Homo sapiens: one gene and its partner. The protein of the gene in region 1 purifies or fractionates together with the protein of each later gene. This does not show direct contact. Each region holds a gene or a part of one and is shown on either strand. Other genes may lie near its edges.

The links.
Region 2: the proteins of NOA1 (region 1) and ATE1 purify together in Homo sapiens (co-immunoprecipitation; 2 studies listed by BioGRID and IntAct, with this or other methods). This does not show direct contact.

What each region holds. Positions count from the first base shown.
Region 1 is NC_000004.12:56,963,925-56,967,841, reverse strand, and holds part of NOA1 (nitric oxide-associated protein 1), read left to right. Parts: intron 1-1,105; coding exon 1,106-1,222; intron 1,223-3,315; coding exon 3,316-3,436; intron 3,437-3,917. UniProt on the Homo sapiens protein: Involved in regulation of mitochondrial protein translation and respiration. Plays a role in mitochondria-mediated cell death. May act as a scaffolding protein or stabilizer of respiratory chain supercomplexes. Binds GTP.
Region 2 is NC_000010.11:121,914,386-121,918,302, reverse strand, and holds part of ATE1 (arginyl-tRNA--protein transferase 1), read left to right. Parts: intron 1-3,917. UniProt on the Homo sapiens protein: Involved in the post-translational conjugation of arginine to the N-terminal aspartate or glutamate of a protein. This arginylation is required for degradation of the protein via the ubiquitin pathway. Does not arginylate cysteine residues.

The DNA of each region.
Region 1 (3,917 bases):
TACCCTACACAGCTTGGCATTTAAGACAAGATACTATCCCTATTCTATGGGATAGAGTCAAACCTATGGGATAAAGTCAAACCTTTAGGTACAGGGTTATAGGCGTTAAATTAATTCCACACTTTGTATACCATGATATGTGTGTTTTTATGCATACACGTTTTTGTTTGGTATTCGTTTATATAGCATCTAGGGATTTTGGAGTGTCTATAGAATTGCTCTCCATTTTGCTAAAGTGAAGAGAAAAAGGAAAATGAAACATGGATATGGATATGTCCAACAACACAATACAACTGTGTGCCATTACTATAGCACATTTCTTGGGTTTTGTGTTTGCTCATACTTTGTTAGAAATTTTGCCTTACACACTTAGAACCCTTATATATTTCGTTTTGGGAGGTTGTTGGTTTTTTGCTTTTGGGGTTGGTTTTTTGTTTTTTTGTTTTTTTGTTTTTTTTTTTTGAAACAGCATCTCTCTCTGTTGCCCAGACTGGAGTGCAGTGGTACAGTCACGGCTCACTGTGGCCTCAACCTCCTGGGCTCCAATGATCATCCCACCCCAGCCCCGCAAGTAGTCGGGACTACAGGCACACATCACCACACCCAGCTAATTTTTGTATTTTTTATAGAGACAGGGTTTTGCCATGTTTCCCAGGCTGGTCTCAAACTTGAGCTCAAGGGATTCACCCACCTCGGCCTTCCAAAATGCTGGGATTATAGGCATGAGCCACCACACCAGGCTTGCACCCTTATATATTTCATCAGAACACATAAAATGTTAATATTTTAAACCTAACTTTACACAGAGACAATTAAAGCAGATAGTATTTCCTTTTAATTTTTAATAATAGACTTTTTTCAAAAATAGTATTGGGTCTGTCAAAGAAGTCATAGTTTCACATGAATTGCTGAAATGCACTGCTTCAGTATTGTGCCCCTGTTCTTAGTAATAATTTGATTTACAGCTACTGCCATACCAGTACTTATAAAGGGAGTCTGATTGGGTTTTTGTTTTTTGGTTTGTTTTTTTTTTAGTTGATTGTACCTTGAATATGCAGGTTTTCCAAGTTTTTCACCAGGTCAGATAACTTCTTCCTTTCTTAAGGGAAATCAGTCAGCTTGGTTTACAGTCGTGGCTTCCAACATCCTCCCTGTGCATATCACCTCCTTGGACAGGGCAGACGCTCTGTATCAGAAGCATGCAGGTCATACGTTACTCCAGGTAAGGCAACATGCCTTGATTGCATGGTTATGGTTAGTATACACTGGGATGGTCCCATAGCTCTGTTAAGAAAGCCTTTGTTGTACAGAACTGTTATACAATATCTTGAGCTAGCTTTCCCTCACCTCATTCTCTTTGAGAATTCTGGCTATAAAGCAAAATTGCTCTATATAGACTGATCCTAGAATAGCCACACAGCTATTTTTTTCTCTAGACTACACTGTCCAATTTGGTAGCCATTAGCCCACATGTGGCTAAGTTTAAATATATTAGTGACAATTAAAATTTGCTCAGTGGCCAGGTGTGGTGGCTCACGCCTATAATCCCAGCACTTTGGGAGGCCAAGGCAGATGGATCACAAGGTCAGGAGTTCAAGACCAGCCTGGCCAAGATGGTGAAACCCCATCTCTACTAAAAATACAAAAATTAGCCAGGCGTGGTGATGGGTGCCTGTAATCCCAGCCACTCAGAAGGCTGAGGCAGGAGAATCACTTGAACCAGAGCGGCAGAGGTTGCAGTGAGCCAAGATCGCGCTACTGCGCTACTGCACTCCAGCCTGGGCAACAGAGACTCCATCTCAAAAAAAAAAAAAAAAAAAAAAGAAAATTTGCTCAAGTTAGCCAGGTATGGTGGCATGCACCTGTAATCCCAGCTCCTCGAGAGGTTAAGGCAGGAGGACCACTTGAGCCCAGGAGTATGAGGCTGTGGTGAGCCATGATTATGCCACTGCACTCTAGCCTGGGTGACAGAGTGAAACCCTGTCTCTAAAAAAAAAAAAAAAAAAGGGAAAATTTAAAATATGGTTGCTTAGTGTCACCAGCCACATTTTGAGTGCCCAATAGTGACATTGTTGCAAAAAGTTGTATAAACTCCTGACAGCCTCATCACCAATACACACACACACACACACACACACACACACACACCATACTTTGGACAATTAAGCTATAGTTCCCCGAACTCATCATCCTTTTTCCAGTTTTTATCTGTACCTGTGGCGACCGAAAATATCTTTCCACCAAATAACTTTGACTCATTTCTCAAAATATTGCTCATATATTGCTTGTTTTTGTTATATATATATAGCTTCTTTACTAATGTTTTCCTTGACTGAACACATTCATTACTCCTTCCTTCACAACCATAGTACTTATAGATGCCTCACATTACATTTCTGACCTTGTATTAGCTTACATATTATCTACCCCTTTGATTTCCTTGGGGGCAGAAACCATACTGCAAAATCTATCTTTGTGTTCTTAGTGCTAAACACAGGAGAGATTTGCTAATGAATAGATGAATAAATTACCCAGTTACAGCCAAGCGCAGTGGCTCACACCTGTAATCCCAGCACTTTGGGAGGCCGAGGTGGGCAGATCACCTTGAGGTCAGGAGTTTGAGACCAGCCTGGCTAACATGGTGAAACCCTGTTTCTACTAAAAATACAAAAAAATTGGCCTGGTATGGTGGTGCGCGCCTGTAATCCCAGTTACTCGGGAGGCTGAGACAAGAGAATCACTTGAGCCTTGGAGGCGGAGGTTGCAGTGAGCTGATATCGTGCCATTACACTCCAGCTTGGGCAGCAAGAGCAAAACTCCATCTCAAAAAAAAAAAAATTACTCAATTACTTCTAATCGTGGAAACACCTGTAAACATAAAAGCTAAATCTTATCCATTATATATGGACCCTTAACTCATAAAGACCAGGCATTAATCCTGATGGCCACACCTATAAGAACTAAGGTACTTAGAAGGACCGTGCCTTAATTGCCCAACATTAATCTATGTGAGGCCCTGTGGAGGATTCTAAAAACAGTGTCAGTGAAGCACAATTCTCCTGTCCAGAGGCTTCTGCCAGGTGCTTGCCCAATGTGTGGCCCAGAGCCCTGAGATTTGTAAGCTTCATCCCATCACAGAGTTCCCTTGCTTTTCATTTGACCCCAGAAGTGATTGCAAGTTCTTTTCAACAGTTGAATATTTGAAAGGATTTTATTCTTGATCCCTGTACAGAATTATCTTATCAGTGATTTGCTTAATGTTAGAGTTCCAAGAAATTTAATTTGAACTTGTAAATATCTTTATTTCATTGGAAGATTCCAATGGGTGGAAAAGAACGAATGGCAGGATTTCCTCCTCTTGTTGCTGAAGACATTATGTTAAAAGAAGGACTGGGGGCATCTGAAGCAGTGGCCGACATCAAGTTTTCCTCTGCAGGTAATTTTATGCCAAGCACTTTTTAAAAAGTGAATAAAAGGGCAGGCACGGTGGCTCACACCTGTAATCCCAGCACTTTGTGAGGCCGAGGTGGGCGGATCACCTGAGGTCGGGAGTTTGAGACCAACCTGACCAACATGGAGAAACCCCGTCTCTACTAAAAGTACAAAATTAGCCGGGCATGGTGGCGCATGCCTGTAATTCCAGCTACTCGGGAGGCTGAGGCAGGAGAATCGCTTGAACCCAGGAGGCGGAGGTTGCGGTGAGCCTAGATCATGCCATTGCACTCCAGCCTGGGCAACAAGAGCCAAACTCCATCTCAAAAAAAAAAAACAAAAAGTGAATAAAGCAGCCTTACCGACAATTTTTTTTATAGAAAAGTGCCTTAACTGATGAAAGCTGATTATTTTAAGGTGTACATACTAGTTTATTCATAAAATACAACCTATTCTGAAAATAAATTTGTACTTTGCACAAACGC
Region 2 (3,917 bases), on another chromosome or scaffold:
GGAGTGCAGTGGCGCGATCTCTGCTCACTGAAACCTCCGCCTCCCAGGTTCAAGTGATTCTTCTGCCTCAGCCTCCTGAGTAGCTGGGACTACAGGCGCATGCCACCATGCCCTGCTAATTTTTGTATTTTTAGTAGAGACGGGGTTTCACCATATTGGCCAGGTTGGTCTGGAACTCCTGACCTCATGATCCGCCTGCCTTGGCCTCCCAAAGTGCTGGGATTACAGGCGTTGAGCCACTGGGCCCAGCCACATCATCTTTTTATGGAGTCATTTTCCATATTTACTCTTCTGGTTATTTTTACCTTGTATATAACAGCAGTTGCAATGAGAACTTAGATAAAGGAAAGGGGCTTATAGCTAACAGCTTAGCTTCTTGTTAGTCAGTAGGGACTCTCCAGTATGTGTGTATAAATGAGGATGAACTTTTCTGGCTATGATTTTTTAAGTTTTTTATTTTTATCAGAATTCCACATGCTCATTAAATGTCAAGTTGCAATAAAGTTTGTTTTGGAAAAAGCAATCCCCCAACCCCCCTGTCCCATTTCCTGTTCCCCTAAGGCAGTCATCTTGAAACATTTTAACTAATTCTTTTGGTTTTTCATCTCCCTGTCTTTAAGCAACATGCTTATATAATTGTAACACTTGCATTTTTTTTCTTTTTCTGTTAGTTTTCTCCATTATTTCCGGGCTTCTCTCTGTGGAAGATAAGGATTTAGTTTTCTCTTATCCCTGTTTCCCTGCCACATTCAAGCTCGTTTTTGTCCCCATCCCTAGCTTTCCATTCAGAAGTGTGATTTTGGGCAGATGTGTTCATATCCATTGTGACTGTGTAAATATGCTTCACAACTGAACCATGGCGGGTACTGTGATTACTTTTCCTGCACAAGTTTTTGCTTTCCTTGGAGTTACTAATTATCTTTTTTGTTTGCATAGTGTATATAACTATGACCAGATTATTTTGAAAATAAATCCCAGTTATGTAAGTTTTTTCTTAGTATATTTAAACGCATCAAGTGCTATGATCGCTTTTATCTACTTGAGAAAAGTCCCTTGTGGAGCCTTCTGACCGGCTTGATCTGAACAGGTTACCCCCTGCACCTGAAGCATCACGGTCAGCCTGGGCTATTTTTTTTTTTGAGATGGAGTTTTGCTGTTGTTGCCCAGGCTGGAGTGTACTGGCACAATCTCAGTTCACTGCAACCTCCACCCTTGGGCTCAAGTGATTTTCCTGCCTCAGCCTCCTGAGTAGCTGGGATTACAGGCGCCCACCACTATGCCTGGCTAAGTTTTGTATTTTTAGTAGAGATGGGGTTTCATCATGTTGGCCAGGCTGGTCTCGAACTCCATACCTCACATGATCCACCCACCTCGGCCTCCCAAAGTGCAGGGATTACAGGCATGAGCCACCATATGTGGCCTGGGCTATTCTTTTTACTGTCATCTTGGGGATTTTTTTTTTTTGTTTGAGACGGAGTCTCGTTTTGTTGCCCAGGCTGGAGTGCAGTGGCGCGATCTTGGCTCACTGCTCCCTCTGCCTCCCAGGTTCAAGTGATTCTCCTGCCTTAGCCTCCCGAGTAGCTGGGACTACAGGCATGTGCCACCATACCTGGCTAATTTTTTGTATTTTCAGTAGAGACGGGGTTTCACCGTGTTAGCCAGGATGGTGTTGATCTCCTGACCTCGTGATCCACCTGCCTCAGCCTCCCAAAGTGTTGGGATTGCAAGCGTGAGCCACCGCGCCCGGCCTGGGGATTCTTTTTAGCACCTGAGTTGGAAACCCTTCTTTCTTGGATTATTCCCTTGTTTTAGTGAAGCACATCTTCTAATAGAGAAAGTGCATAAGAGTTACATTTTTGAGACCTTGTGTGTCTGCAAACTTTGATTCACTGCTCAAACTTTAGTTTGGGAGGGTACAGAAGTGCAGGATGAAAATAATTTTTCTAGAATTTTGTTCCACTATCGTATTATTACTGTTGAGAAGTGCGGTGATATTCTGATCCTCATACCTTTGTCTGAGACGTGTTCTTTCTCTTTGGAAGTGTTCCTTTTTTTTGTTGTTGTTTTTTGTTTTTCGAGGCAGAGTCTCGCTCTGTTTCCCAGGCTGGAGTGCAGTGGTGTGATCTCTGCTCACTGCAAGCTCCGCCTCCTGGGTTCATGCCATTCTCCTGCCTCAGCCTCCTGAGTAGCTGGGACTACAGGTGCCTGCCACCACGCCCGGCTAATTTTTTGTAGAGACGGGGTTTCACCTTGTTAGCCAGGGTGGTCTCCATCTCCTGACCTTGTGATCTGCCCGCCTCGGCCTCCCAAAGTGCTGATATTACAGGCATGAGCCACTGTGCCTGGCCGAAGCTTTTCTTTTCTTCTCTTTTTCTTGTTTTTTTTTGTTTTGTTTTGTTTTGTTTTTTTTTTGAGATGGAGTCTCACTCTGTTGCCCAGGCTGGAGTGCAGTGGTGTGATCTTGGCTCACTGCAAGCTCTGCCTCCCAGGTTCATGCCATTCTCCTGCCTCAGCCTCCCAAGTAGCTGGAACTACAGGTGCCCGCCACCACGCCTGGCTAATTTTTTTTGTATTTTTATTAGAGACAGGGTTTCACCATGTTAGCCAGGATAGTCTCGATCTCCTGACCTCGTGATCCGCCTGCCTCGGCCTCCCAAAGTGCTGGGATTACAGGTGTGAGCCACGGCGCCCGGCCTCTCTTAGGAAGCTTTTCTATCCTCTGTTCTACATTTCATAGTCAGTTTGGCTATGTGTCTGTTTTTATCCATCACAGACAAACTGGAGGGGCCCTTCTTATCTGGGGGCTCGTCCCATCTTATCCTTTAGTTCAGGGGAATTTTCTTAAATTTTTTATTCTATCTTTTCACCTCCATTTTCTTTTTTAATGCCTTTATTTAGATTTTGGACCTTTTAAACTAGTCTCTGACTTTACCTTTTCTCTTCAGTTTTTCATCTTTTTTGCAGAATCTTCTGGAAGGTTTCTTCAACTTCAGTTTTCAGGTCTTCTACTTAATTTTTACATTTCTCCTGTCATATTTTTACTTTTGAAGTTGTTTTTGTTCTCAGACTCTTATTTGTTTATTTAATAACACCTTGTTATTTTATGGATGTAGTGGCTTAATAAACGAGATCTTCCTAAGGATTTTTTTAAAAGGTTCTCTTCTTTCTGTCATGGTCTATGTCCTCCAGGTTACTTTCTCCAGTTTGTTCGGTACCTATCTTTTCAGTGGAGGCTCTTCTCGAGTGTCTGGTGATTCTGACTTTTCAGTGTTCCATTGGAAATTCCGTGTACCTGATGGGTTTGGTTTACTGTGGGTCTTGGGTGTTTCTCGGCCTTGTTTACTGTGGGTGATCTGGCTGGGCTCTTCTGTTGGGGAATCCCTGATGTTAGTATTTTTAGGTCTGATCACATTCTGGAGAGAAAGTATTTCATAACCTGCTGTTGTTCTGGACCTGGGTTGGTGATCTCAACATGTACTGTGTACACTTTTATTTAAGCCGTTTTCAGTAGTACCGCTGCTTTCAGCTGTGGCTTGCATCCATCCTGTAAGAGGCTCTATGTTACTCTTTCCTGCAAGTTTGCAGTTTTCTGCTGGGTTGAGTAGGGAGTCGTCTAGTCATCTGCGGATGGGAGAGGGGATCTGACATCTATCCTAACTGCTTCGAAAACAAGACTTTGAAGGGATCTTTCTATTTTTAGACCTAACTTTCACTCATATTTCCAGAGCTATGAGGTGTCACCAATCCCTAAGACTTTTAAGGGTAATATAGAGAAAATTGGCTTTTTTTTTTTCCACTGTTGGCCTAGGATTCAACTTTCTTTGGTCTGTTAAAACAGCATTGCTTTGTATATCTGTTTTCCAGCTTCTAACACTTCTGTCCTTCTCTTTTTTCTAGTGTTTTATGTCTTTCTCTCT